2 separate regions of the Homo sapiens genome follow, and region 2 is linked to region 1. The links come from fine-mapping of genetic effects on gene expression. A gene starts in region 1. The other region holds a variant in brackets. All regions are shown on one strand. Distances are between the middles of the regions. Region 1 holds the start of BAG2 (BAG cochaperone 2). Region 2 holds the start of LINC03001 (long intergenic non-protein coding RNA 3001).

Region 1 (15,743 bases):
TCCCAATCCTATTACTTTTTTTTTTTTAAGAAAAGGTCCTTCAGTACTGTATTAAACAGTGGCAATCATGGGGGTATCTTTGTCTTTTCCCAAATTTAAGGGAAAATCTCTGTGGCTTTTTTGTGTAAAGCCCTGATCAAACTATAGAAGCACTACTTTCCCACTTCACTCAATTGCACACACATGCACTCACACTATACACACACATGAATATACCCAGTCACTAAAAAACTAAGCTGTGGAATAAGGGCAAAATAAAGAAATATATATTGTATATTTAACATGTTCTATACTTCCAGGGAACGTTGTTATTATGAATTACAGTAACTAAGATGCCAACTTTTGCAAAATGAAAGTGACAGACCTATTCCCAGTATTTGGATGGTCTTAGAAATACAAGTTCATGAAAGATCTAATCCTAACTGCTGTCTTAAGTGTGCACAGAAAGAACAACTTCACCAATGTTTTAGCACGTTCAATTCCATAAAAGGATCCTCTCCCTGCCCTAAGCACACACATGCCTTTTCCCCTTCGGTTACCCACCTGTTATACCCCAAAATAGTACTGACAGGCTGTAAAATCACAGGATATCTTTATTCTTCAAGATATTAAATATATGTCAAAGTGTGTTTATAAGAGCCAGTAAAAGCAAAGAACTGGGAAGAATCGCATGTGACAAATTTGGCTAGAGAACACAATCAAAATACAAATATTCTACTAACTAATAGTAATGCAAGTATCAGGCCCTATTCCAGGACCATTCAGTATTTACTTAAACATTTTACATTAGCAATCTCTCAGAAAGATAAACTAGGGCCCAGAACATAGGAAAGAGACGGAGTTGGCACTAAATATTTATGCTAAAAGCACAAACCATGACTCCAATATTTAGACAAATGACACAGGTGAATCATGTGATTGATAAATGAGAAGATGCTGAAAGAAGAGATTAATTTTTCAACACCTTTTCGGTTTGTATTCAATTGTAAGATGATAAGAGAGAACAATGCTATTCTGAAAAGGAAGGTTTCATTTATGAGTTACAGCAGTAAGTTCATGTTCTTAACAAAATAGATAAAAAAGACATTCTAGAAAAAATATAATAAGCCTGTCATATGACGAAAATATTTTATCATTAAATGAGACCAAATAGTTAGGTGGAACTGCTAAAGTTTGTGTTTTAGGGACCCTCCCCCACCCCCATCCCACAAGGCTTTTTTTAATACATAATAGAAATTACCAGGGCATTATCCCTGTGAAAACCAGATTTCATCATTTATAGAACTTCTTATATACATTTTTATGTATACCTTTTTCATTTCATGCAAGGGTAAAATGTCATTCTTCAAAATGTAAAGATCTCAGGGTTTATTTGGCAACATGGGCTTTTCATGTCCTATTCCCTCTTCAGGTAGCATTCTTTCTCCCTGACCCTTGTCTACTGGGATCACCTTTTTCAAAACCCAATTGCTTCAGCAGGAATTGTTTCCTTAGCTTCCCCCTTCCTCTCCCTTAAGGCAATTCATGCTCCTTTTGGCCCTGGTACATCCATTTACTCTACAGTCTAAAATATGTCTACCTCATATTTTACATTTTTTCTTTTAAAAAGCTGAACCTAGATCTCTACTTAGTTTAAGTAACGTTTGTACTGTTTGTCAGCTATTGCTATCCTTAAACTCATATACACGTCTTTTGTCTACAATTTTTCCATTAGTTCTAGAAAATTCTTGGCTGTTGTATCTTTGAATATTCCCTGTCTCCCCTTCTGTTATTTTCGTCTGGAACTCTGGTTAGAGAAATGTTGGACCATCTCACTTTATCCTTCATGTTTCTTAATATCTCATCTGGCAACACTTCTGGCGGAGAAGGGCAGTTCTGTTTTTACTAACAGATCCCGGAAGCAGCTACACGTCCAAATTGGGAAAGAACTTTTCCTCACATCAAGGCTGGCCTGGGCTGTGCTCCTGGAAAACTCCCTGCATGAAATCACAACTAAGTAGGCTTTGACAAAAAGAAATTTTAGTCAGAGTACTCAGTAGGAAGACAAAACCGGAGCGCATGCATCCTCAGCTAGTACCCAGGTCTTGGGCACCTCACAAACCTCTGCAGTCTCAGTATCGAAACGGCAAACTGCTGGGAGACTTAGGAGGAGTACAACAGCAATTTTGCGCAAACTGTGGCTACTATTAATATGTCAGCTAATAGAGTATGCAGTGAAAACTGCGCCAGCACTGCCACTACTAGCTGTGCAAATGGGTCAGTCGCCTATGAAACAGGGATGATAAGGGAACAGTGCTTGTGACTAAATGAAGTAAAGCAGGTAGAGTTTAACAGTGACTGATAGCACTGACTAAAAAAATTACACACACACACAAGTTAATATGTATAATGTGTCTAGAATTGGCACTGGCATATATTTATAGTATTAATAGCTATTATATTCTTACCATTATGAATGTGGGCTTATTTATTAATGATGAAAATTTGTGCTTTCATAAAAAGGAGGGAAAATGGCAAATGCTCATACCATGATTTGAAAGAAATAATTTCTAAAACAGGTTTGTTTTTTTTGAGATGGAGTCTCACTCTGTCGTCCAGGCCGGAGTGCAGTGGTGTGATCTCAGCTCACTGCAACCTCCACCTCCAGGGTTCAAGTGATTCTCCTGCCTCAGCCTCCCGAGTGGCTAGGACTACAGACATGCGCCACCACGTCTGGCTAACTTTTGAATTTTTTATTAGAGATGGTTTTCACCATGTTGGACAGGCTGGTCTCAAACTCCTGACCTCAGGTGATCTGCCCACCTCAGCCTCCCAAAGTGCTGGGATTACAGGAGTGAGCCACCACGCCTGGCCTAAAACAGGTTCTTAAAACTCATAGTTCTGTCTCTTATTCCATACTCCTATATCAAAAGAATGCTATAATGATCACTTTTAGGCAATGTAAAATTCTGAAGTGTTTTCCTAATCACCAAAATGTTAAATTACATTTACTGTCAAGACATTTTGGTGTAAAAGAAGGGACTAGTGTTTTTAGTGTGAAGAGCCACTTTTCAGTAGCATGTCCTCAGGCAAGCCACTTCATCCTAATTGGACCTCACTTCCCTCATTTCTAGGAGAGAGAGTATGTGCCCTCCACCTAACTCGAAGGGTTCTTAAAGTTTCAAATAACATATATGAAGTGTTCTTTTAAATTACAGGCTGTCACACAGTATTAACTATGATGCCATCTTGTTTTGTGACTCCTAGAACACTGGCACACCCTAACATGAAACTTTAAGCCAGACGAATGATCCCTATCACCCCCAACCCCATCCCTTCACTACCTGGGTGCAGGTTAAGCCACAGTGAAAGGCTGACAGGAAGGCAGAAGGAGCCACTGTGTTATAAGTTTTGGGAAACATATGAAAAGCCAATCTCCCAGTCCTATCATTTTCCCCTCTGCCAGTCTCCAAAACCCATCCCCCAAACATCTTCATTACCATCTTGAGCTTTCTAGGAGCTACCCAATACCTAACACATAGTGGGTGTTCAATATCCACTGAATTAAAGGCCAATTTAGATTGAATTTTTATCTCTTAGAGGAAGCTCATCTATTCATCCATATATCATTTCTATATTTTGAAATGTGATATATTTAAGAAAATTCAGGCATAAAGTATTAGAGCCTGGAGAGCCAGTCTTCCTGGGTTCAAATTTGGAGTTTACTACTCTCTAGTTGTGTGACTTTGGACAAGTCATTTAAGCTTCTAAGCCTCAATTTCCCTATCTGTAGAATGGTGATAATAGTAACAACGACATGGGGCCTGGCACATAGTCCGTGTACATTAAATGAATAAACATTAGCCTGTGTTTTAGAAAAAACTCTCACACTGTGTTTTTCCTCTGCTCTCACACTGTAACAACACAGAAGGCTGTGACCAAATATGTGGGGGATTTGCAGCTAAGTATCCCCCAACTCAGTTCCAACACTCCCTACACCTGGAGACGGTATCAGATCCCACAAGTTGAAAGCTCAGTCCCCAAGACCCCACCCTCCACCGTTGCAAGTCTAGGCCTCCAGAACTTCTGACCAACTGGCTTCAAATTGGGGTTCCCATGTCCCCCTCTTTGGGTTTAACTTGCTGCAGCAGCTCACAAAATTCAGGGAAACACTTACTTATATTTACGGATTTATTATAAAGGGTATTACAAAGGACATGGATAAAGAGATGTGTAGGGTGAGGTACAGGGGGAAGGGGCACACCACCTTCCAGGAGCCTCCACATGTCCAGCTATCCAGAAGCTCTCCAAACCCTGTCCTTTTTGGGTTCTTATGGAGGCTTGCTTCTTTTATATAAGCATGAATGACAACCATGTAGAAAAGTGATTGGACAAAAAGAGTATGCCCTCACTCTAACAGACTGAATGGGGAAACCCAGCAAGGCCAGTCTATTCAGATTCTTCTTGGCCTCTGGGTGCTAAATGCCCTCCTCCAGGGCATAGGGCAGGACCCTCTCTGGAACGAGAGTCTTTTGACCCACAATCAGACTAGAGGTAAGGCAGGTGAAAGAAGGTCAGAGAGAGAGATTCTTTTTCCTGAGGCCTAAAGCACCCCAACATTATAACGTAAGACTGTAATAAGGGTTATGGGAGTTATGAGCCAGGAACTATAACATAAGACTGTAACAAGGGTTATGGGAGTTATGAGCCAGGAAAACGTTGTATATATACAGAGAGAGAGAATCGTAATATCATAGTATTTTTTACAAATTACAATAATTGTTAAAAAGTAACAATAGTAAGCAAGATGGTTTGAGCCACTGAAGAATGCAAAACTCAGAGTCCATTTAGAACTGATCGTCAAAACGGAGAAAAGGGAATCACCTCTGTAGAAGGAAGAAATACAGAAGACAAAATGCAGTCCAAAAAAAAGGGCTACTGTATTGATAAATTCCATTAGAGATAAATGGAAATCCTTTAACAGTTTGTAAAACTGCTGCCAAACATTTTAAACATCATGTAGATCAGTTCATACTCCAGGTCATAAAGTATGAAATTTCTTCCACAATTGACAGGATCAGTGTGGTTAGGGAACATTAAGTGCACACTTCTAAGTACAAACTATAAGGTTTTATTCTACACAGTTACACTACTTTATTAGTCAACAAAATCAAACTATTAGAGCAAAATTACATATGAGTTTCATGTTTTCTTTTAAAAATCGATCTTCTACGCATGATTCTAGTTTTTAATAGTGTTCAGTGCCATTGCCCATGTGGTTTCAAAAAAAACTTTAATAGGATCTACATTAGCATTTTTCTCTATTTTTGCTTACCTTCGGAAATCCTTCCTTTTCAGCTAGTATTACTTTTTTAAAAAGAAGAAAAAAGGCCTACAAAAGTCCAGAATTACTAAAAAAAAGTCCTTGAAATGAACAGCCACATATTAATCACTTTTCTCCTCAGCTCAAATGTTAATTAAGCAAGTTGTAATTTAATCACTGATGTGCAATCAGAATTCATTTTACATTAATCAAACAGTAGAATATAATAATATTCAAAACCTGAGGCTTTCTTTTAAAGAGGAGCACTTCAGAGTGCTTTTGTACCTACCACATGTGAGGCATTAATTCAAGTTGGAGGACAATGACTCAGCTTGAAGGAAGGCGGAGTGGAGTAACAACCTCCCCATTCCTTTAGGAAAACTTTTCTTTCTGGCTAAGGGAGAGGAGAATGAAGTGGTTGAGAACATGCCCTCAACGTTCTGAAGACATGGAGAGATGTGTGTTACTTGTTATGTGGCTCCCTAAAAAGAAACATTACCAGTTAGAGGGACTTCAAGTAACTGAGGCCACCAATTTCTACTTTCGCTCTACTTTTTCTGGGAGTGGAACGGTCAGGTTTGCCAGTATTGTGAAAATCCATGAGGAAGCATTACTTCTCTCTTCCACTTGCCTCATTCTGAGTGGAACCCCAGAACCTGGTGTAGGGCTTAATAATCCAAGAAATTATTTTGAGTGGAGAATCTCTCACTCTCTGGCTCTTTTCTCCCAATAGTAACAATAATAATGCCTCACTTGTTAAGAGATACCGTGGTTATTGAAGTATTTTCTCAGCAAACAGATACTTCATGTTTGGGTGTATTAATGTAGGAAGATAAAGACACACATGCAGTGTTTCCTAAACTTTTTGGCTCACATGCTTCTTTGCTCATGCACAACCTAGACAAAACTATGTAACCAACTCCTGTGTACAGTTTCACGGAATTGCAGGTGCCTAACAAGATTTTCTTTTAACTACACCTGCTCACAAAATTTACACAGTAACTTGAGACAAACGTTCACAGGAAGTAGATAAAACTTTTCAATACACCGTTAAAGTCTTTCCAAAAATCTATTAACATTAAATTGTTTAGAAATTCTATACAAGTCTACTACTGTATTACCAAATAAATTCTTAAGCAAGAAAAGGGGAAAACTATCTTTTCATGCTTTCAGGCCAGTAACTAGCACTTAGTCTTCTATGTAGGGAGGTGCCCAATAAATACCGAGAGACGAACGGAACCGCTGAATCCCGTCCGCGAGGTTAGGGGAGAAACAGAAGCGGCAACGTCTCTGCTGCACGAAGCACCCGGTAACTTACTGCCTACCCCTCACTCCTGTCTAATCTTTGCTCTCAATGGATTGCTGGGTTGGTTTTGTTTTATTCATTTTTGTTCTGAAGCAAGGAAACTTAACTTCACGTGGAGGGCCACTGTAAACTGCTGCCTCCCTTAAAAAATGCATAACGAGAAGAGTAAGTTAAAACGTTTGGGGCCACACAGAAGGTTCTAGAAGTTCTGCAGACCCAAGCTGCCACAGTCCTTAATCGCATGGAATCTCACTGTAACTTTTATCTCCTCTGATTTTTTTCCGCTCCCTAACACCTAGGTAAATTAATCAAAGTGTGGCCACCGATAACGCCCTCACAGGTTTAGCTTAAATCGAATGCGTTTTCTCTCGGACTAGGGGAGATAATCCAAGAAACAAACAAAACTACACCACGTCCATCCACAACAAATCTCAACAAGCAACTTCGGTTGCCGCAGCCTCACTGTGCCCCAGGCCCCGGCCCGCCACACGCGGCCTCCGTCCGCTAACCGCCCGCGAACCGCCCGCGCGGCGAGCAGAACGCCCGAGACCGCCCGCCCGGAGCTCACCTGAGCTCCAGCTGGTCCAGGCTCTCCAGCAGGCGGCTGGAGCGGTCAGCCATGGAGGAGGAGCGGCAGAAGCGCCCCTCGTTGGCTTTAGCGTTGATCTTCGCCTGAGCCATCTAAGCCTCCGACGCGGGGTAGCCAAGAGGTCACCGGCCCCTCCGGCGGCAGCGAGTGGAGCGCTCCTTGGGCTGCAGGCGTCGCCGTCACCACGCGGGCGCCCGCCCTCCCTCTGACGCCCGCGGGGGCAACCCGGGAGGACTCGCCGACACCGCGGCTGCAGCGTAGCCAAAGAAGGGCAGGCGCGGCGCCCGCGGGGCTCGGGGACGCCGGGCCTGGGAGGGGGCTGCAGCGGCTGGAGTTAGAGGTTCGCGAGCCACACGGGCTCGAGGATGGGCCGACAGGGGCTCGGGCCTGGGGAGCGCAAGTCTCTGAGGCACGGGAGGGGCGGACGCAGAGACCGAGCGCCTAATGTGGCTAGCGGATCGTCTGCTCCCCGGACCCAGGAACTACCCGAAGCCCGCGCGGACCCACAGACCACCCCCAGCTCCGCCCCGCGAGGCCCCGCCTCTTCATGCAACCTAAAAGTAACCAACTCCCCCCACGCGAAGGTTCCTATCGGTCGACGGGCTGTGGGTGTATTGCTCAGTGACGGCTTCGTTTAGTTTCTCCCAGCACCCATAATTCAAAGCAAGAACAACGACATTATGGGGAGAAAACGTCCTTTTGTGAAACAGAAGGCAGTAAGTACAGCTCGTAGGCAGCCCACACTCACCTGACCTTCCTGTTACCACTTTATACTGAGATGAGAGTAATGAAAGCCCGGACAACACTGAAGCTATGAAGTAAAAAAGAAAAAGCTACTCCATCTTTCCCTGTCTAGCTAGATGTGGGAAGCAAAGTGAATTTACTTCATTTTTACCATTCTAATTTTCTTTTGTTTTTGAGATGGGGTCTAACTGTCGCCCACGTTGGAGTGTAGTGGCGCGATCACGACTTACTGCAGCCTCGACCTCCCGGGTTCAAGCGGTCCTCCCACCTCAGCCTCCCAAAGTGCTGGGATTACAGATGTGAACCACCACGCCTGGCTTAATGAAGGGGTTTTAAATTTTTGCTATTAAAATTATTCCTGTTGAGCGAGCCGAGATCTCGCCACTGCACTCCAGCCTGGGCGATAGAGCGAGACCTTGTCTCAAAAAAATAAATAAATAAATAAATATTCTGAGTGAAATAATTGGCATTAAAAAGTCCTCAACTTTTAAAAATCCTGTTAACAAAAAAGATGCAGTAGGCCTCTAGGTCAGGCACCAGCTGTCGGTAAAAGACGGAATAGAGCTGAGGATACAAAGATTAGTCTACTTAAAAAGTTAGGCTTTAGTCCCCTCTCCTGATAGCTCTATGCCTCTCATTGCAAGGATGACAATGTACAGGGCACAGAAAATGATAGATAATAATAGTTTAAAGCTGAGCCACCACCTTTAATCAGAGATCAAAGCCATTTAAATACTTGAACAGAGTTGAAGCCCTTAAGGCTGGATCCCAATTCCCTCTGAACTCATTTTAAATCCTAATTAACTCTTGGGGTAGGGGATTATTTGACCTTATTAAAAATAACTTTATCATGACACAAACGAAAACAAAACACATTTTGTGAGTGGTTTGAAAGTCTATCAAGTGACTTTAGAATCATCCTGAACTCTTTTTCTCTCTTATCCTAGATCCACACCATTAGTAAACCCCATCAATTTTGCCTTCAGAATATATCCAGATTCTTCCCAATTCTACCGCCACCATTCTGGTTCAAGCTACCTGGTGAGTTTGCACCTGGAATACTACAATACCTTCCTCTCTGGTCTCCCTGCTTCTACTCTTGCCTCTCATGTACATGTTATCTCAGTGCAGCAACTACAGCAATCCTAAATAAGGCAGATCATACCATTTATTCTCAGAAACCTTCACTGGCTCCTTACCTCAAAGTAAAAGCCCAGGTCATTAGAAAAACCTCAGTAAGTTCATTTCCTATTACTCTCCTAGCTCATCCTGTCAGCCATACTAGTCTTCTTGCTTTTCCTTGAATATACTAAGCTCCTGTCTGGACCTTAACCTCCTCCACCTGGAACTCTCTTCCCGATATGTATTTTCATCCTCATTCCCTCACCTTCTTCAGGTCTTTGCTCAAGTTTACCTATCAGTGAGATCTTTTCTGACAACCCTATTAAAAATAGCAAGCCTCCCCCCAACTCCCTGTCCCTGCACTATTTATTCCCTTCCCTTCTTTATTTTCCGTCGTTACACGTATCACCATCAGATATGCAGTTTTATTGCCTTGCTTACTAACATTGTACAATCCCCTCCTCTCCACCAATATGTGCTCCACAGAGGGGTAAGGGCTTTGTTTTGCTTACTGGTATATTCCAAGTGCTTAGAACAGTTGCTGGCACATGGTGGGTACTCAATATTTTGTGATTGAATGAATTAATGAGTGAATGATGTAATGAAAAGATAAGCATCTTTGTCAATGTTAGAAACATTTACTTCTGACGATAATCCATATAGCTTTCTCTGATGTTACACAGCGATTACATCTCCTTGTGTCTAAATTAAAGTCAAAGTATGAATTTTAAGATGATTTTTAATTATTTAACAAGTAGAAATACGATCAGTGACAATTATCAATTAAAACATTAAACAACCCAGTTACCTTTTCTTAACAGTCATGATGAAATATCCCTTTCCTGTCTTATCAGAAGCCTTAATTATTCTCTACCACACACACCACAAAAGCTTCTTAATAGAGCATCAGTGTCCATCACACCTTTGTGTAGAATCTCTGGCAACAAGGTGCTGTCTCCTCTTGCCCTGCCCCCACATCTGCTTAACTACTCTTCTTTCTGGAATGCCTCTTTTGCTCCCATTTTGTGAGCTCCTGCAGATGTGTTTAAGGTCCAGCTCAGTGACTACCTCCTAGAGCCTTGCTTGACCACTTAAACATACAAACTAAAAGCACAATGTGGTCATTTCGGAAAGATGATTGATAAATTCTCAAGCCACAATGTCTAGTTTTTAAAAAATGCAAGCAGGGAGGAACAGAAGTGACATATCAAGAAATTAAAAACACAAATTATAGATTGAAAAGACTATAGTAATAAAAAAATTCAATTTCACACTAAAATATTTAGTGTTACAGAGAAGGAACCAAATTCTAGCCTTTATATTTTGTCTTAAATATAAAGAAAAGCTTTATATTTATAGAAATGTTTTTAAGTTTGGTAAATAATTACTACTAAAAATTTTTAGAGATAAGACATTTCTGGTTAAATAACATGAAGCATATACACAAAGATAATATGACAAGCCCTTCTTAGTCTTCTACTTATGTCGTATTTTTTATTACTCACAATGGGGCCTCAATATTTAAGAATTAAATATGTAATACCAAATGAAGGAAACTGACAATTCAGTGAATAACTAAACTGAAAACACTTCACATGAAATAAAAATTTAAAGAGTTAAGGAAGATTATTCCTGAGTAGGCTTTCAACATTATTTCTTGAAGAATATTATGTTTACACCAATATATAAAAAAGGACTGTTATGAAAAATAATTTTATGCAAATATTCTGACACCATTCCCTTTAACCAGGAGACCATACAAGTCACATAAAAGTCTAAGCAGGTAAAAGGAATGGAAATTGTTTCATTTAAATTATTTCTTAAAAATTAAGGTGTATTTTTTATTTTAGCAATGTGCTGCTCTAATTAAAGCAATAATTTACATATGCATGGCACCCACAAAGAACATTGCTGATAAAATTTTAAATGTTTCCATGATCAGTTTCCATTACCCTCTTCTAATAAACATAAACAAAGATCTCAAAGGTATTATATAATAGTGCCACATGAGAAGTAGAATTTATGGAAAACTTGACCTATGTCACCTTTTTTATATTCATTTTCACTGCTAAAAAAATAAACTAGCATCATTTGTACAGTACAAATAAAATTAAAGAACTAATGCTATTTGGGAAACAACTGTCAAGAGCTTTCCTTTTTTTTAATCCTTTAAATCTAAATATATAAATTCAAAGTTAACTGGGAAACTGTTACACCTATATTAGAATACATAATTTATATTTGCATGAACATGTATTCTATTTCTTCTGTACATGTTTGCACATTAGCACAAAAATACAAAACAAAGATCAGATTTTGAACATATGAAAGCAAAAACATGTTTTCAAATACATTTGTAATAGTGGATTTCTGGTCTCCTTTAGAAAACAAACTCAAGAATTCGTTATCTCAGTCTCTTCAAGGCCACTTGATGTTGTGTGGTAATATCTTTAATTACATTTCCTCAAGACTTCTTCTAATAGCTTCTTCTAATTCCACATCTGCATTAAAAAACATAGAATTTTAACACTTAGGGCAGAAAACTCAACATGTGCTGTATTTATTTAAGTTTCATCGACTGTATTCTTTTCAAGAAGGAAAGTAAAATCAAAATGGAAAAACACAGGATAACTTGGCAGTTTCTCTACTAAAAAATTGAGTATTTTGAAATATGAAAATCTAGACATGATCTTGAATTGAATTTTATATATGAACTTAGAACTTGCAAGTTAATTCCACTTAGGAATGTAGAAAGTCAACAAACTTTTAAAATCACTGACAGGTAATCATTTGTTTCAACATTTAAAAAAAAATCTGTATCACTTATTTGCTAAAAGACTTGAGGTGATACATATAAGACTTTAAACAGAAAGGCAACTCCATGAAATGACAAAATGTCACAGGCCATTAAAAATTTAGTTTAATTTTTAATTATACCTCAATAAAGCTGGGGAAAAATTAGCTTAAAGCATCCTAGCATCTAAGGTAGTGAAACTCATAGCCACATAAATGTCATCTGAGAAGCATATAATATATGCTGTATGCAGATGTATGTAAACTCATTTGACAAATATTTATTGAATGCCCATTATATACCAGGAACAGCAATGTAATAGTGAACAAGACAGACGTTATTGGGTTCACAATAGTTGAGTTCCATCTCCTCCTTGGGAATGATGCTAAAATCCAGGAGGGTGAAATTTGGTGTCAATTTCTTGGCCTTCACTAGCTTCTCACACCAGATTTATCTCATCCCATCTGGTCCACAGTCTCTCAGAGGCTACTTGGCTACAGGCACCAGTGATCTCCCTAAGATGCAACCGCATGTTCCTCTGATTGGGGGCACTAGTGTTATGTTGTCTAATTTAAAGTACAATAAACTAGCATGAACTGTGTATCAAGTTAAAGCTACACTCTAGGATCAGTTAGTTGCCCTTAAGATGAATTAAAAGGGATGAGGAAATGCAAAGAAAAGCCAAGACACTCTTACCAAAGAAAAACAAGGGGACAAGACTTGTCTAAGATATGAACACTTATTATAAAGTTACAGTAACTAATAATGTGCTACTAGTGCAAGAATAAATAGACCAAAGGAACAGCATAGACAGCTCAGAAACAGACCCATGCATATATGGACACTGGATTTATAACAAAGGTAGCACTGCAGAATGACAGGGAAAGGTCTTTTTAACAAATGATAGTAGGTTATATGTATATATGTGTGTGTGTGTGTGTGTGTGTATATATATACGAAATCACAACGTCTGTTTTACAATTAAAGTTATAAAAATCTTTGAACTAAAATTCAAAATTTGAAGTATGGTTTATACTAAATGCATATTGCTTTCACATCCTTATAAAGTAAAAAAATCATAAATCAAACCATCATTAAGTACAGCAACATCTATACAAAGATATCATACCTCCAGTGAGCTTATAGGGATTAAACTTGCCAGCTGAAAGACTATAAAAAACAAAAAGCAAGTATGGTCATGTGCTGCGTATCAACTTTTGGTAAACAGTGGATCACATATACAACAGTGGTCCCATAAGATTATAATAGACCTGAAAAATTCCTATTGCCTAATTATGTCATAGCCATCTTCATGTTGCAGTGCAACATATTACTCATGTGTTTGTGGTGATGCTGCTGTAAACAAATACACTATGTTGCCAGTTGTATAAAAGTACAGCACATACAATTATGTACAGTACATAACACTTGAAAATTATAATAAACTCTGGTACTGGTTTATGTATTTACTATACTTTTTATTATTATTTTAGAGGGTACTGCTACTTATAAAAGTGATATTGATGATCCTGACTCTGTGCAGGTCTAAGCTAATATATATGTGTTTGTGTCTTAGTTTTTAACAAAAAAGTTTTAAAAGTAATAAAACAATTTAAAAGTAGGGAAAAGCTTATAGAATAAGGATATAAAGAAAATATTTCTCTATAGCTGTACAAAGTGTTTGTGTTTTAAGTGTTATTACAATAGAGACAAAAAGTTAAAAATTTTAAAGTTTATACAAGTTACAGTAAGCTAAGGTGAACTGATTACTGAAGAAAAAAAAATTTTTTTAAATGTAGTATAGGCCAGGCACAGTGGCTCATGTCTTAATCCGAGTACTTTGGAAGGCCAAGGTGGGCGGATCACCTGAGGTCAGTAGTTCGAGACCAGCCTGGCCAACATGGAGAAACCCCATCTCTACCAAAAATACAAAAATTAGGCGGGCGTGGTGGCACATGCCTATAATCCCAGCTACTTGGGAGGCTGAGGTGGGAGAATCGCTTAAACCTGGGAGGCGGAGGTTGCAGTGAGCCAAGATCACACAACTGCACTCCAGCCTGGGCAACAGAGGAAGACTCCGTCTCAAAAAAAAAAAAAGTAGTATAGCCTAATCGTACAGTGTTTATAAAATCTACAGTAGAGTACAGTAACATCCTAGACCTTCACATTCACTCACCACTCACTCACTGACTCACCCAGAGCAACTTCCCCATCCTGCAAGCTCCATTCAGGGTAAGTACCTTATACAGGTATACCATTTTTTATGTATTTTTATGTCTCTATGTTTAGATACAAAAATATTTACCATTATGTTACAATGTCTACAGTATTCAGCACAATAACATGCTATACAGGTTTGTAGACTAGGAGCAACAGGCTACATGATATAGCATGGGTGACAAAGACTTTAAGCCAACTGTCTTATGTATGTTCAAAGAACTAAAGGAAACCAGGAAAAAAATGTATGAACAAAATTAAGAGTACCAATAATGAGGCAGAATTATTAAAAGCCCATCAAATAGAAACTCAGGAACTGAAAAGTACAATAACTAAAATGAAAAATCTTTAGAGGGGCTTAATGAATTTGAGTACAAAGAAGAGTCAGCAAATTTAAAGATAGTATAATTTAAATTATCCAGTGTGTGTCTTGGTTTGAGTTCAGTCTAAATCAATCAATCAATCAATCAATCATCCAGTATGAGGAACAGAAAGAAAAATGAAGAAAAGTAAACAGAGTCCAAGGGACCTGTGGGACATCATCAAGTGAACTAACATATGCATTACAGGAGTCTCAAGAGGGGAAGTGCAATAGGATCAGAAAGAATGTTTGAAGAAATAATGGTTGAAAAACTCCCAAATTTGATGAAAGAGGTGAATCTACATATCCAAGAAGCTCAATGAACTCTAAAGAGACCCACACTGAGACGTGTTATAGTCAAACTGTCAAAAGCCAAAGACAATGAAAACAACAAGAGAGAAACAACTCATCACATACAAGAGAGCCTTAATAAAATTACTAGCTGATTTCTTATAAAAAACCATGGAGACCAGAAAATAAGAATGTCGATCAAGAATTCTATATCTGACAAAACTATTCCTAAAGAAATTCTCAGATAAACAAAAGCTACAGAATTTACTAGTAGACCTGCCCTACAAGAAATGCTAAAGAGAATCTCTCAGATTGAAATTAAAGGACATCAGACAGTAACTTGAAGCCATATGAAAAAATAAAGAGCAATTGTGAAAAATCTGTCTTTGTTTTTCTATTCTGTGGCTAGCTCTGTGTTCCCCTTACCATTCTTTCTGCCTTAATTTCATTTACTTTGAGAGCAGTAATTATGGCAAACAAACAACAAAAACAACCAGTAGTAGGAGGTAGAAGACATATAGAAATGGTTCCCAATCATTTTAAAACTGTGGATGTAAGGCCAAATTACTTAATGTTTAGAAGCCTCAGTTTTCATATAAAATGAAGAGAATAGTCTGACTCTCACAAGTTGTTAAGATTAAGAGCAGTTTTGACTGCTATTAATTGAAGGAATTCTCAGAATAAGGCATATTGCTAACATTTACAGAAAGATGGTTTTGCAAAGAAAATTATCTATATAATGCTGTCCTCTGTCTCTTCCAGCAATTTGAGTCAGAATACCTCTAGTTAACAGACATACCTCTAGAGTAGACCTTAGATGAACATATAAGTAAATAATGGCATAATGATCATCATAATCCCAGTAACATTAGCAGCAACCAATATATACTATTTATCATATGTCATGTTATTCTAGTAAGGTAGGTATACTAATATTCCCATATTTAAGAGGAGGAAGCTGAAGCACAGTGAAGTTAAGTGACTTGTCCAATATTACACAACTTGTAAGCAGCAGAG
Region 2 (15,743 bases), 90 kb before region 1:
TAGGAAGAATCAATATCATGAAAATGGCCATACTGCCCAAGATAATTTATAGATTCAATGCCATCCCCATCAAGCTACCAATGACTTTCTTCACAGAATTGGAAAAAACTACTTTAAAGTTCATATGGAACCAAAAAAGAGCCCGCATCGCCAAGTCAATCCTAAGCCAAAAGAACAAAGCTGGAGGCATCATGCTACCTGACTTCAAACTATACTACAAGGCTACAGTAACCAAAACAGCATGGTACTGGTACCAAAACAGATATATAGACCAATGGAACAGAACAGAGCCCTCAGAAATAATGCCGCATATCTACAACCATCTGATCTTTGACAAACCTCACAAAAACAAGCAATGGGGAAAGGATTCCCTGTTTAATAAATGGTGGTGGGAAAACTGGCTAGCCATATGTAGAAAGTTGAAACTGGATCCCTTCCTTACATCTTATACAAAAATTAATTCAAGATGGATTAAAGACTTACATGTTAGACCTAAAACCGTAAAAACCCTAGAAGAAAACCTAGGCAATACCATTCAGGACAGAGGCATGGGCAAGGACCTCATGTCTAAAACACCAAAAGCAATGGCAACAAAAGCCAAAATTGACAAATGGGATCTAATTAAACTAAAGAGCTTCTGCACAGCAAAAGAAACTACCATCAGAGTGAACAGGCAACCTACAGAATGGGAGAAAATTTTTGCAATCTACTCATCTGACCAAGGGCTAATATCCAGAATCTACAATGAACTCAAACAAATTTACAAGAAAAAAACAATCCCATCAAAAAGTGGGCAAAGGACATGAACAGACACTTCTCAAAAGAAGACATTTATGCAGCCAAAAAACACATGAAAAAATGCTCATCATCACTGGCCATCAGAGAAATGCAAATCAAAACCACAATGAGATACCATCTCACACCAGTTAGAATGGCGATCATTAAAAAGTCAGGAGACAACAGGTGCTGGAGAGGATGTGGAGAAATAGGAACACTTTTACACTGTTGGTGGGACTGTAAACTAGTTCAACCATTGTGGAAGTCAGTGTGGCGATTCCTCAGGGATCTAGAACTAGAAATACCATTTGACCCAGCCATCCCATTACTGGGTATATACCCAAAGGACTGTAAATCATGCTGCTATAAAGACACATGCACACATTTGTTTATTGCAGCACTATTCACAATAGCGAAGACTTGGAACCAACCCAAATGTCCAACAATGATAGACTGGATTAAGAAAATGTGGCACATATACACCATGGAATACTATGCAGCCATAAAAAATGATGAGTTCATGTCCTTTGTAGGGACATGGATGAAATTGGAAATTATCATTCTCAGTAAACTATCGCAAGGACAAAAAACCAAACACCGCATGTTCTCACTCATAGGTGGGAATTGAACAATGAGAACACATGGACACAGCAAGGGGAACATCACACTCTGGGGACTGTTGTGGGGTGGGGGGAGGGGGGAGGGATAGCATTAGGAGATATACCTAATGCTAAATGACGAGTTAATGGGTGCAGCACACCAACATGACACATGTATACATATGTAACAAACCTGCACGTTGTGCACATGTACCCTAAAACTTAAAGTATAATAATAATAAAATTAAAAATAAATAAGTAAATGTGGGGGGAAATTGCCATATATATATACATATATATCCTTGTAATGCCTCAGAACCTAGTGCATCAGAATTCTTTTTAAAACTCAATTAAAAAATATTGATTGTAATCTATTTTTCTACCAAGAATGTTAACCTTGGCTCTGAGATAGCATTTTTTTTCACCTTTTATGCATAGACATTTTGATGTCATGTGATATTTTAAAAGCCATATTAGTCTTCTCAATATATGAAGTCTTTACATCTTGAGGCTCAAGTTACAGAATATTTTCTGCCTTTAACTCTAACATTTAATATTCTTATATCCTACAGGAGGTCACAAAATGTTATACAGTAAAGTAATTGGAGCACCACCTGGTGGGCATTCTGGCTACATTCCTGACTTGAAGGGAACAAAATGTGGTTTTTTGAGACCAAGGAGGAATATGACTAGGAAGACATGTCTCCTCCCTTCCGCTGGAGACTGAAGTAACAACTACGTAACTCATAGAACCTTCCAACCACCTAATACTTTAGGAATGTGCTTGGAGCTCTTCTAAATCCATCTCACTTGAACTGCAAAGCCAGAAACAACAGCCATTATTCCTCTGAAGCCTGCAAAATGCTGAGTAGATTAAAAGGATTATGTTTCTGTTCTCATATGCTCAATGCCCATAGCTCAACAACCTTACTTTTACAAGAACCCAGCAACAATGATTTCATTTTGAATGAATCCACGATCTTCTCTGCAACATAGTTAAATGTAACCAGGCCAGGACGGTGGCTCACCCTTGTAATCCCAGCACTTTGGGAGGCCAAGGCGGGAGGGTCATTTGAGGCCAGGTTTTCGAGACCAGCATGTGCCACCATGCCTAGCTAATTTTAAAATTTTTTTGTAGAGATGGGGTGTCGCAATGTTGCCCAGGCTGGTCTTTAACTCCTGGCCTCAAGTGATCCTCCCGCCTCCGCCTCCCAAAGTGCTGGAATTACAAGTGTGAGCCACCGTGCATGTCAACCATTCTTATTTATTCTGCTTTTTATTTTCCTGGCTTCTCTTCAGCACTCTCAACCATTCTTTATAGCAATGCTCCCCAAATTTTTTCATGTGGTATTGCTCGTAGAAAGTGATAATATTAGTACAGTGCTGGACTAAATGGATGAGGTTGCTCAAAGGTTTTATGCAGCCTCTCAAAGAGATGCCACTGGGATTGAGCTCACTTGCCCAAGACAGTAACCCGCTTCTCAATGTATCCTTTAATGGTGTTCCTCTTTTGCCAGTCTTACTTGCCCACTCCCTGATCATGCCTCCTGGGATCACCTCCCAAGTAAACTACTTTCACCCAAATTCTTGTCCCATCACAGTAGATAATGAATACCAAAAAAATGGCAAAATGACAATAAAACTAATATCCAAGCAAAGTGGACCTTTGTGCATCAAGCTTTGCTCTAAAACATGTATCAACCTATTAGGTAAAGCAATGCATTGATTAATTAATGAAGGTAATTACTTAAATTCTGTGCTTCACTTTGCATGTGGAGGCACTGCATGCATTTTAAGAACATTTTTAGACTTATATCAAGACATTTGTCTTTCATACCTAAAGAACTAAGCTACAAAAGGTTTAATGACTTCCCACGTCACATCTTTAACAGTAAAAGTCAAAATAGTTAAAATTCATTGAGCATTCACTATATGCTGGATTCTGTGTGAAGTACTTTTCATCATTCCACTAATCATTTATTTTTAACTTTTTTTAACTATTTTTAATCATTTATTATTTTGGACGTTAAGATACCCACTCCACAAATGAGGAAACTGAGCTAAAAGAGATCGGTTCCAAATTGGCACTGATCAAAAATTAAAGAGAAAGCTTTGAACTAGCAAGTAGAGAGAAGCTGTGGCGACATAGACTATTTTTACACTACAAAATGTTATTCTAATAAAGTCTACATATACACTCAAAGTGAAGTAGAAGATCAGGACAGGTAATCAGATAATTCAAATGCGGCAAATTACTCTTTTTCACAGCAATTCATGAAAAACATATTTGGCTGAATTATCCACATGGTTAAATGAAATCTGCGCTATATGTTATATGTTTAACTAACCTTGAACTTGGTCTTAAACAAATCGTCACTTTGGTCAGCCCTATAAGCAACTGTGGTTGCAAAAAAATTGTCGAGCTGATTATTTGATTAGGTAAAATTGAAAACTCTGATATTTTTAGAGTTGACATTAACATTTCAGTAAAATGAATTCTTCATTCTTGACTCTGTAGGCCGTCTGGGTTTGTTTCCTAGAGACAGAGATGATATTTGCACCAAAAATCTAAATACAGAGAAACAATCTTGAGCAAATGGCCAAGTTTTCACATTGAGATGCTTAAACACATGAAGCTGCCCACATGAAACTGCTGTCATCTTCCATAAAGACTTGGTTTCTTTGTTTTATTTATGTTGACTCACATTGCAGCTACTTTATATTTAGAGTAAAATGGAAATTCTTCTGTATTCTACACAAAGCCAAGCAAATTGCAGTTTTCCTTTCGTTTCTGGGTGTCTTATTTGTTCAAGCTCTTTATAAATAGCCCTGAGCTTGGAAATTAGTTAAGTTTTGCTGTTTTTTCATTCTCCTTTTCTTATAGTTTAAAAATCAAACTGTCTGATTTTATTCTACTTTCATAAGACTGGGCAAGAAGCCCATTTCCTGTTAATGATGAGGTGACCATATTTTGACAGTACATTAAAGAATAGTTGGATGACATACTGGCAGGGGAAAGTCAATTGAGGAAAAAGTGTACTCAGATTTGGAAAATGAGTCAGTGTCTAGGAACCAACTGCATTTAACACACAAAATTTGCTCCAAATGAGCAAATTGAAAATCCTTTAAGAGAAGCTGCATAATAAATATGTCTAGAGTTGTCAGGCACAGAATTCTTTATAAAAAAATTCTGTTTAATTGCAGTGACATCAATTTCTGGGCTATCTATAGGATAAATTGATAGATTACTTAAACTAAAACACACAAATCAAATCACTAAATGCATTCACAACTTTTCCCTAGAATTGTCAAAGTCTACATGCCTAAGTGTGTTCTATTCTAGTAAGTGGTTGAGCGTCTACCGTAAACCAAAGTGTATGGAAAAATAACCCAAACCTTTGGAGGAACAAAATTAAAATGGCACATACCAACGTGGCAAGCTAGCAACAGATGCACCAGAGAGACTTTATATTAAAGAGCTGACTTGAAAAAGCTATTCAAGAAATCAAGATTTCTCCACTTCTTCAGCTTAATAATTAAAGTCATACTGTCCCTTCTCCTCCCCAAATAAAAGGTAAGAGTCGAATGAAAGAGGCTAACACAGACAACCTGATGGCCTTGAAAATACTGCATAATGGCCTGATCATTTGCCCACATGGTTCAGTAAAAAGGTCAAGTCATGTCTTCACCAGAGATTAAGCTGCTTCTCCATAGACATCCAGGTCAAAAGCAATCAGGACTATTAACAATCTAGTTGTTATTAATGATAACATATATAAACATTTTATAGCACTGTACAGCTTACAAATTGCTTTCACATACATTAATCACATGACCCTCATAACAATCCTATCAAGTAGGTAGAACATGTACTACTATTACTATTTTACGGAAGACATCACAATCCAATTCTCTAGATATCCCAGTTTTCTCTCCTCCACCCATTACTGAGTCTCAGTCTCCAAACTATACATTCTTAAAAGTTTTTGACGCCTTTAATCCCAGCCAATAAATGGGGACAAACAAGATCTGCCAGTGGGCAGATCACAAGGTCAAGAGATTGGAACCATCTTGGCCAAGATGGTGAAACCGTATATCTACTAAAAAATGCAAAAATTAACTGGGCTTGGTGGGGCGCACCTGTAGTCCCAGCTACTCAGGAGGCTGAGGCAGGAGAATCGCTTGAACTCAGGAGGGGGAGGTTGCCGTGAGCCAAGACTGTGCCACTGCACTCCAGCCTGGCAACAGAGTGAGGCTCCATCGCAAAAAAAAAAAAAAAAAAAAAGCGTTTGACTTTTACAAGTTTAAATCACCCCTCATCACATTGGTATTAGAGGGGTTGCAACTGTTTACCAGTGTATTCAATGATAAAATGATGGGGCTGGCTCTGTCATTATATTCTGTGAAATAATGGGTTGAGTATTTGAAGTGATGACGAGCACTCCAGGAACAATGAAAAGGAGAAGAAAAATCAGTGCGATAAATCAGGAGGCCAAAATAAATGCAGACCACTCCCCCGACGACAACCAGTTATTAAGCAAGAAAGCTACCACTAAAATGAAATTCATGGCTTGGTGTCATTATAAATACACACTAAAGAGGGCTTCAGGTACTGCACCACCCAACACTGCAGAAAACACTAAAATACTTCCATAGCAACTATCACTAAGGACATCATTAGGATGCTGAAAATGTAAAAGAGGAAAAAAGAGCCAATAAATGGGGACAAACAAGATTATTTCCCTGGTAGAGTAAAGCCCATTGTTCACTCTCAGAAGACATAAATATTTAACCACCCAAGGCAAGCTATAACCAGCTATTTCAGCTAGCCAAACCCATCTTCCTGATATATAGTGTTTTCAAAAAATAAATCAACCAAGGAGTTGAAACCCAAGGAACTCACAAATACATGTACCAGGCTGGTGGCAGCACGCTCTAGTCTGAAGGATTGATCATGAGTCAGGAGGGGAGGGTGCAAGCCTCAGCCCGGTCACTTAGTACCTATCAAACCTATTATGGGACATGTAGGTATTGTCAGGGACACAAAAGTGAATCAGAAACAGGTTTTGTCCTTGGGCTGTTCAGTGTTGTAGGGGGAGATAAAAGATAGATTACTATAAAATAAGCTAGATGTGATAGATGTCAAAAGAGAAATAAGATTGCTGCTATTCAATTTTAAAATCTTATTGCAGGGTGTTGTGGGTGGAATTGCACCCCCCAAGAAGGTATTTTGAAATCCCAACTCTCAGGATCCCAGAATGTGACTTCATTTGGAAACAGGGCCTTTGCAGATATAATCAAGTTAAATGAGGTTACTAGAGTGGGCCTCAATCCACTGTGACTGATGGCCTTATAAGGGAAGAGAATGCCACGTGGAAACAAAGACACACAGGGAGAAGATGACTGTGCAACATCAGAAGCAGAGATTTGAGTGAAGCGGCTCTAAGCCAGGGAACACCAAGGATTGCCAAGAGCCACCAGAAGCTGGGAAGGGGCAAGGAAGGACTCTCCCTACAGCCTTCAGAGAGAGGATGGCTCTATCAATGTCTTGATTTCAAACTTCCAGCCTCCAGAACTGTGAGAGAATAAATTTTTGTTGTTTTAAGCCAATTCTTGGTATATTATAACCATAGCCCTAAGAAGCAAATACAGAGGCAAAGAGTAACCTCATCCTACTGGGATTAGGGCCAGGTTTCTGGTAAGAAATGACACATAAATTGAACTTTGAAGAACTTATACTATCTAAATGGTAGGAAATGTGGTTTCCTATTTACGTGATAATAGTATTCATCAACCATTGAGAATCCACTTTGTGTCAGATATTGTACTAGGAGTCATTCATATATAAATGGATTGGACTCTGGCTCATATACAGAAGTCATCTAGACCTCACCTCCCTCCTTGACCATCCCACTTCCATCCCACAGTGGTTGATAAGTATAAAATGTTTAGTTTAGCAAATAGAAGAGGAAGATGGGTTTGGGGGTTGGGAGAGCTGTGGAGGGGAGAGGGGAAAAGGGCAAAGCATCTGTTCCCTTTCTGACCTCCTTCTAGAAAGACGGTGGAAGCAGGTTGCAGAACCTCTGTGAGTTGTTTTGTTTACATGTGAAATTAGCTGAGGAAATAGTCAAAGAGACTCTCAGAGGCTCTAGGCACAAGCCCAGCTATTTGGGGCTGAGCCAGGGAAGGACATTCTCCTCTCTGCACCACAGAGGCCAAATGGAGGCTTCCCAAGGACCAGACTCTTTGGGAACACTAAGAGGCAACACCCTTGGCATGTGCTGTGTTCTCATGATGGACAGTGACCCTGGAAAAGTTTCAGCCTCGGCAAAGCCTCAGCAAGTGGCCCTGCAAGCAGAAGCTGGACATGTGGGAGCTGGGGCAGAAGCAAAATAACAGGGCAGAAGACGATGGCAACTGTGAAAGAACGACTGGTGAGCAAGGGAACTTCTTTGGAAACTTCTAGAAATAACTGGAAATACTTTGAAGGGGGTTCATTTCTTTCAGTCGAGTAGGAAGGGGATTTACGCCATAAATAATCGGTATGTAAAAAAAAAGACAACTGGCAGATGAGGCCTGGAACACATGGGTCAGGCACGGATTTCTAATATATCCAACTGAAATTCATCATTATCCCCTTTCCACTTTACCAGCAAGAAAACGGAAGCTCAGGAGGTTAAATAACTTTCCCAGCCAGTAACTCTGTAAGTGACTGAATCAGAAATAAAACCATGTCTGTCTGCCAGTAAGTCCAGTATTCTTTCTACTATACCACACTG[C/T]TGATCTGGGCAACAGTGGGGAAAATATGACACTTGAAAGGAGCTTGGAAAAGAACACAGTAGGTCAGGATACTAGCCAGGGTTCTGGCAGAAAACAGAACTCAAGCCAAATTGTTCAAATGAAGGGACTTTAACAAAGATACTGCTGACATAGCTGTGGGCAGAATTAAGGGAATTAGCAAGGGATGTTGAGACACCCAGAGACCAGCAATAGAAGGAAACCACTCCTAGAGAGAGACCTGGTGAGAGCTGGTGAGACCTGGAGCCACGGAAGACAGACCACCAGCAGGATCTATAATGGTGGAGGGAGCCTTCCAGAGAGGTGGCTCCAAAGCAGGGAGGGAATGGGGAAAAATAACCCAACCTTTCCTTTTATCTCCCAGTCTCCTGCTGCTGCCACCCATTGGCTGTGCCCCCACCTGGAAACCAGCTATCAAGGGAGCCTGGGGCAATAAGTGGCAGGAATTAGAGACTCCTGGAAACAGAAGAGGAGGAAGACATTGCCATGGAGAGCAGAGAAGTTGAGGCCATGTGCTAGTCTTGTCCTGTTTTGCTCTTAGATTTATCCCCTGTCCCCGCTCTACCCTGTTCCGTATCACAGAGAATTACTTTTTCCTTGTTCCTTTGCCCTCTGGTTTCTGGGTCAGTTCAGCCATTGGATGGCCCTGAAGAGAGAGCAGAAAGGGAGAAGCTGGGTATTTTTCCCCACTTCTCTCAGCTTCAAGTATTGTCTCTGGCAGCGGCCATCTCTTCTATGGACCCAGCTCTTGCTCCAAGAGCTTCTGTGGTTCCAACTTCTCCCTGGTGGCCTGGCTCCTTTTGTCCCTTAAGCTTTAGGCAGTGGTAGCAGCTTCCTGCTCTTGATAATCTCAAGGATGCCTTACTCTCCCACTTTAGGCTTCTTACCTTTGTCATCTCCTGGTATTAAATCTCTTCTTTAAAATATCAAGAATATTTAGAATCCTGACTGATAGAGGAAACTATCACATGGGAGAGCCTCAACCTTCACAGAAAAGCATGAGGGAAATGAAAATACACATGGCTTGCATATCATAAATATGGAAAAACTTCCATTGAATCTGTCACTGCTGTGTGCCTATTCCCTCCTCTCACTGGGGCCTCCAATCCCTCAACCACCAGTGTTCTGGTCCACTTTTTAGCCTGGCTTGCCCTTCATACCCCTGGAGATCATGAACAGTCATATCCGCAATATTCTGTTAGAATTCTTGATTTTCCTGCTGACTTTTCCTTCTGCTGTAGCTATTTTATCAATCCCTATCCCTGAGTACAGTAAATTATCTATTTTCTCTCCTCCTGCTTTTTTTACTGGACAAAGGAACATGACCTGGCCAAAATTTCTTCTCCTGGGATGTTTGTCTGCCCGGCTACTTATATCCATTGTACCCATTTCCAACAACCATGCACCCATGGCTTTGCCCAGAGTCCCTGGAATCTTTTCAGGTTCATGTAAACTTAAAATTTATGCAAAGGAAATCCACCAAGGATTGGAGACCAAAAAACAAACGTATGACATCATGCTATAATTTCACACACACAGAATTATTTTAAAAATAGAATGGGTTCATAAAAATGAAATAAATTGCTGATATGTAAAACTCATCATAGAAAAATCAATGTTATTAAAATGGTTATTCATAAAATAATTCACCACATTTTTCACTTTAGAATACCAAACCCCCACCATGCATTTGGAATTTAATTCAATTTACAAAGTTTCCATTTGCCCACAACTCTTCAGGACCACATGCCTTTTCCAAGTCAAATATATTTCAAGGTCCAATATCAATGGTTTAGATATACATTAAGACATGTCAGACAGAGATTCTGTCTGCTCCACTATATGCTTTTGTTTTTGGACCTGGGATGCAGTTTAATCTACTTCTTAAATGCAAAGATGTGGTAGATTGCGTTATTGGTTTTGATTCTTTCCTATACTATATCTTTGCCCTTCACCATTGGCTTTGGAGTCCCTCTCATGTTGAAGGTTAGATTTCATAGAGTAATTATTGAGGAATGCTCTTGGAAACAGCCATTTTAAGGGAATAGGGGAAGCAAGATTGACACAGAAAAAAATGGGACTAATTTAATTGCAACCCAGGCCTCACCCAATCCTATGGGAAGCTCTGATGCTAGGATAGCTCTTCAGAGATGTCTTGAATTGAGGCAAGAGGTCAGACTTCATACTCACATCTGACTAGTCTTTGAATGTGGGTTGACCATAGGGGCACCCTTGGGCAAAGCAGTGCCCTTCAGCTGAGGACAATTCCTGGTGGGCAGTGGGATGGGGACTCCAGGGCGAGGGTGGAGGTGAAAGGATGGGAGTCAGTGGACTTGGTGAGCCATCATCAGCAAGCAATATTCCTAGCAGCTGAGAAAGTAAGTGCCTTGGTTCTGGAAAGGGACCAGGAAGTGCACCTCAGCATCCACTACACCCCACAAAGGTGAAGTATATCTCAGTTGGGCACAGTGGTGCACATTTGTAGTCCCAGCAATGCAGGATGATCCCTTGAGCCCAGGCATTTGAGTACAACCTAATCAACAGGCATACCCTTATCTCTTAAAAAAAAATGAGGTATGTCTCTTTGCTCTTTGACATTAGTCTCAGCCTTGTAACTTGCCTTGACGAACAGGATGAGGCAGAAATTAGTGTGCCAGTTCCAAGCCTAGGCCTTAAGAGACCTTGCATATTTCCAATTTTCTTCTTACACATGTCCAGGGCAACCTACTGGTCCCAGGAGGAAGATGAGAGGCATATAGAGCAGAGCTACCCCAGCCACCTAGCCTAGCCCAGCTTAAATCAGCCAACCCCCAAGATGACTCAAAGATACTACTGGTTTTGTGTGATGCGGTTTGTTATGCATTGATAGCAAGTCAATACAATAGGCTTGGACTCAAGAGTCAGATCTGTTTCAGTGCCATGTACTTCTGGCTTGTGACCTTCAAGAATTTTTCCAACCTTTCTTCTAAACCTGAGATTTATCCTTGGTATAGAAATAATCATGTCTGTTTTATGATGTTGCTATAATATATCCATGTGTTTGCCATGGTACATGGGAACTTAGAAGCACTGAATTACTGTAAGTTATGGTCAATATTTGTATATTTTATTTCTAGGTGCAAAAATCCTATAACTAGAAGATATTGGTGGCAAAGGGAAATAGCAAAGGATAGGTCAGTCTCCATTGCTTTCCCGTCCTTGAGGCTGCTCCTATCCTGCTGTCTGCCCTCCAAGAGTCCAGGTTCTGGGAGCGGAGGAGATGGTAGAGTTGAGTCTAGCAATTCTAGGGTACATTGGAGTATCAGCCTTCTGAGTTCTAGGACTATTGAGCCAAAGATAATATCAGATGGAACAGGGAAAAAAGAACAGGGGATAGATGCCCTTAGTCTTACACTGGCCTTTTTCTGTGGGTTCTAGGCTCTTGGGCTTTCTTAACTTTGCATAAGATGGTGTCCTAACAGGTCAAGAATGGCCTGCAGTGGAGGGGTGGGTGGGTTGGGGTGGGGGCTGGGGGGCCCTCACTGTGCAACCACTTCAAACATTACTGTAGGTGGAGAATTTTCACTCACTGAAATTCTACTGCCAAGTTTTGGCAGGGTGGTTGGCTTTTGTTCTCTTCCTTTTAAAGCTGACAAGGAAAAACAAAGTGCAGAAATAGTGTTAACCAAATAAAGAGACACTATGCCTTTTTTTTTTAAACCTCATTTGCGTCAGAAAATCCATTCCCAGATGAGCCATAACTAGATGAGACTACACATATCCCACATCTTAGAAGAGAAAGTTTTATGGGCAGCCCTCATACTTTACGGGTTCAAGCCATGGTTCTAAAGGGAGTTGCGACTGAAAATCTTCACGTCTCTACCTCCAAAATCTTAACGGTAGCACGCCACTCCCGATTGTTAGGTTATTTCGTTTTAAACATGGGTGAAACTCACAGTCGAATGTCTTGTTTCTTCACTTCCCAAATTCCTAAAACAGCTACTCTTTGTTTTTAATGGTGCTGGAAAAAAAAGAGACAGAGAAGAGAAAAAGGAAAACAGTGCATTCCTGAAACATTACAAAAGACCAGCCGATGAGAACCAAGTGCAGCATACTGGAGAGAATCCTGGGGAAGGACTAAGGCAGGGCTGCTCAAACTTTTGCTCTGAGACAACTTAACAAAAGAGGAGGACAAAATAATAACCCTTGGGATATCTAGAAATATAAATGAAAATGAAAATAGCTAACATTAGGGAGAATTCACTATGAACGACCCACTGTTCCAACATTTAACATATACTGGTCACTTAATTCTCATGATAACTCTATGAGGCAGATGATATTATTCCCATTTTACAAATGAGAAATGGAGACACAAAAAGGCTAAGCAACTTGCCCCAGGGTACAGTTAGAAAAGGGAGGAGCTAGGTTTCAGTCTTGCCCCAAAGCCTATGGTTTCAACCACAGGTTACCATGAGTAGTTTACCACCAGTTCAAAATTCCATTAAAGTTGTGCCTTAAAAATGCCTACAGTCTGGGCGCGATGGCTCACGCCTGTAATCCCAGCACTTTGGGAGGCCGAGGCGGGCAGATCACCTGAGGTCGGGAGTTCAAGACCAGCCTGACCAACATGGAGAAATCCTGTCTCTACTAAAAATACAAAATTAGCCGGGCTTGGTGGTGGGTGCCTGTAATCCCAGCTATTCAGGAGCCTGAGGCAGGAGAATCGCTTGAATCCAGCAGGTGGAGGTTGCGGTGAGCCGAGATTGCGCCATTGCACTCCAGCCTGGGCAACAAGAGCAAGACTCCATCTCACAAAAAAAAAAAAAAAATGCCTACAGATATTTTATTCTGTTTCATAATATTTTCTTTTTTCTTTTAAGATAAAAAATACTTCTTTCAAAGATTTTCATCTACATTTTTCAGTGTCCTGCTTCAACTTTCTCTTCAAGTAAATCTTCAAGGAGAACTCTTGCTTCAAGAAGATACACCAGTTGTTTCTTGTGTGCCCAGATTGAGAAGCACTGGCCCAGGGTGGCTAGCTGCCCCAAGAAAAACAAAAATACCTATGTGATATCTGTCAGAATTAATTTGGCCAATTAACCAAATAGATAAGAAAGATTAGGGTTTTTTTCCCCAATGTCAAGGCAACTGAAACTAAAGGGTTGTGGCTAAAATGGAATTGAACAAAATAGGTTAATTGAGTAATTTAGCAGTAGGTAGGAGACTAGACTAGCACATCAGTTAGATAGATGAAGTTCACCATGGCTACACTCAAAATAAGCATAAGCCTTGAAAATAAGGCAGAGCATCTGATAAGCAGGATATTTTTACTTTGGACTAAGATGTAAGAGTGTATGTGTGTGTGTGTGTGTGTGTGTGTGTGTGAAAGTGAGAGAAAGAGAAAGGAAAAACTGTGTGTGTGTGCCTGCATGGCATGTGTGTGTGTGTGTGTGTGTGTGTGTGTGTGTAAGAGAAAGAGAAAGAGAGAAAGAAAACTTGGAGAAGGAGCAAAAGTCTACTTTTGTTAGAAAAGATAACGCAATCCAATGGAGGAAAAGCACAGAATTTAGAGCCAATTAAACCATAAGTTAGAATATTATATCTAATGATTTATAATAATGTGACTTACGTTATTTTATCAAGTCTAAGACACCATAAATGATAACATGCATACACATTCCAATGATTTAAAGTATTTTTAAATTTGATCTTATAATGGAAGAAATACAATAACTATTCCCAATTGCAAAATGAAGATAATACATAATATAGCCCTGTAGGGTGATGGTGAGGGGTAAATAAGGTGGCATATGCCTGACATATGGTAGGGCCTCAGGAAATGCAAGTATTATTGTTTCTATCACCTTTGGCCAAAAACAAGTTAATTGTCTTTTTCCCCCAAGTAATATTTTATTTTTGCTGTTTTGCTGCACAATTTTACATTACAAAAGGTGTGGGTACTTACCTCATCACAACTGTAATCAGTATGCTGATGGATAAAGCAAGACAGTATTTATCCTTCCAAGACTTTTCTATGCTTGTACATCTAATGTGTGTGTGTGTGTGTGTGTGTGTATGTGTGTGTGTGTGCGTGTCTAAATTGCTTTTAAAAATTTGTTTACTCAGCATTTAAGCCCCCTTAGGGCATTTCACACTGCACTGTGTAATAGATAAAGAATCACACTAGAGGAGACATAATTCATTAATTCTCTTTTGAAAAGCGCTTGGTGCTATCAGTGAAATGAATATAAATTATGCCATTCCTATACTTAAGGGCTTAAAAAAGTCTAGTAGTGTCTTATTCATATTTGTATCTGCCATAATAGCCTTGAAGTTTTTTTATGATCATTCTAACTAGATGTTCTCTTTCCTGCCTTTACAAGTTCACGAATTTCTGTATTATGCTTATGATTTAAATGGGACATTGCTGTATATTGTGGTTATTTGTGTTTACATTCTTATCAACTTTATCACTCCCTCCCCAACCAGTGTAAAAATGGAGAAGGCAGGTTGTGGCAATGACCTAACATTGATCATTGGAAATAGGATGGAAATATAGGGATGCAAGTAAATTGAGAGTAATTCTTTTTTTTTTTTTTTTTGAGATAGAGTCCTGCTCTGTTGCCCAGGCTGGAGTGCAGTGGCGGGATCTCAGCTCACTGCAAGCTCTGCCTCCCGGGTTCACGCCATTCTCCTGCATCAGCCTCCCGAGTAGCTGGGACTACAGGTGCCCGCCACCATGCCTGGCTAATTTTTTGTATTTTTAGTAGAGACAGGGTTTCACTGTGTTAGCCAGGATGGTCTTGATCTCCTGACCTCGTGATCCGCCCGCCTCGGCCTCCCAGAGTGCTGGGATTACAGGTGTGCACCACCACACCCGGCCCAATGGAGAGTAATTCTAATAATCAACTATGGATCCTCGGCAGTATGGAGAAGGCCTAGAAGCCAAGAAGAGATCAAAAGGTGAATTAAATAAAGGAATTGAGGTGACCAAACTGTTTCCGGACCAAGCTGAGGGTCAGGCTGCCTATTCTCGCAGCCCAATAATGAGAGGCAGACGAACTGGGAAAGAAGACAGTTTATTTCTGTAACTGGGTACAGGGAAAAGGCCTGGAAAATATCGCCAGGCCAACTCAAAGTTACAAAGTTTTCCAGAGCTTATATACCTTCTAAGCTATATGTCTGTGTGTTAGTGTGCATTCATCTGAAGACATAAGTGATTAACTTCTTCTAATCTATAACTAAGATCTGAATCCTGAAGACCTTCCTCTGGAGCCTCGGTAAATTTACTTAATCCTAATGGGTCCAGGTGCTGGGTGATTACCCTTATCTTGTCTCCTGCTAAATCATGGAGGTTTGGGGAGTTTCTTCAGACCCCCAATAAACTTGTTTGTGGAGGTCTGGGGAGTTTCTTCAGACCTCCAATAAAACTTGTTTAATCCTAAACAGGCCTCTGTTAAGAATTCATTTGTTATCTTGTCACACTTCAAGGCCCAGGAAAGGCCTGAGCAAAACTCCTGGTGGGCTTTTGTTACATTCCAGCCTTTGTATAAGGGCACTAGCTCGATCAGCTTTTAATATTTAACT

Evidence for each region. PIP is the estimated chance that this variant, and not a neighbour inherited with it, causes the effect.
Region 2: its variant is fine-mapped to the expression of BAG2 in aorta (GTEx, PIP 0.99).

Annotation. Positions count from the first base shown.
Region 1 is chr6:57,164,244-57,179,986 of GRCh38, reverse strand. It overlaps BAG2 (BAG cochaperone 2), which reads right to left and starts at 7,661. Exons shown (of 3, transcript NM_004282.4): 1 at 7,177-7,661. The coding sequence starts at 7,289. ZNF451 (zinc finger protein 451) reads right to left here. Exons shown (of 15, transcript NM_001031623.3): 15 at 9,682-11,564. The coding sequence ends at 11,518. ZNF451-AS1 (ZNF451 regulatory antisense RNA 1) reads left to right here and starts at 7,774. Exons shown (of 4, transcript NR_110742.1): 1 at 7,774-7,913; 2 at 8,889-8,982. RefSeq lists an enhancer at 6,757-7,514 and silencers at 7,249-7,518, 7,569-7,648.
Region 2 is chr6:57,254,513-57,270,255 of GRCh38, reverse strand. It overlaps LINC03001 (long intergenic non-protein coding RNA 3001), which reads left to right and starts at 6,910. Exons shown (of 3, transcript NR_109774.1): 1 at 6,910-6,953; 2 at 7,589-7,810; 3 at 8,539-9,732. It also overlaps a transcript of PRIM2 not described here. The variant C/T (reference allele first, on the strand shown) is at 8,156.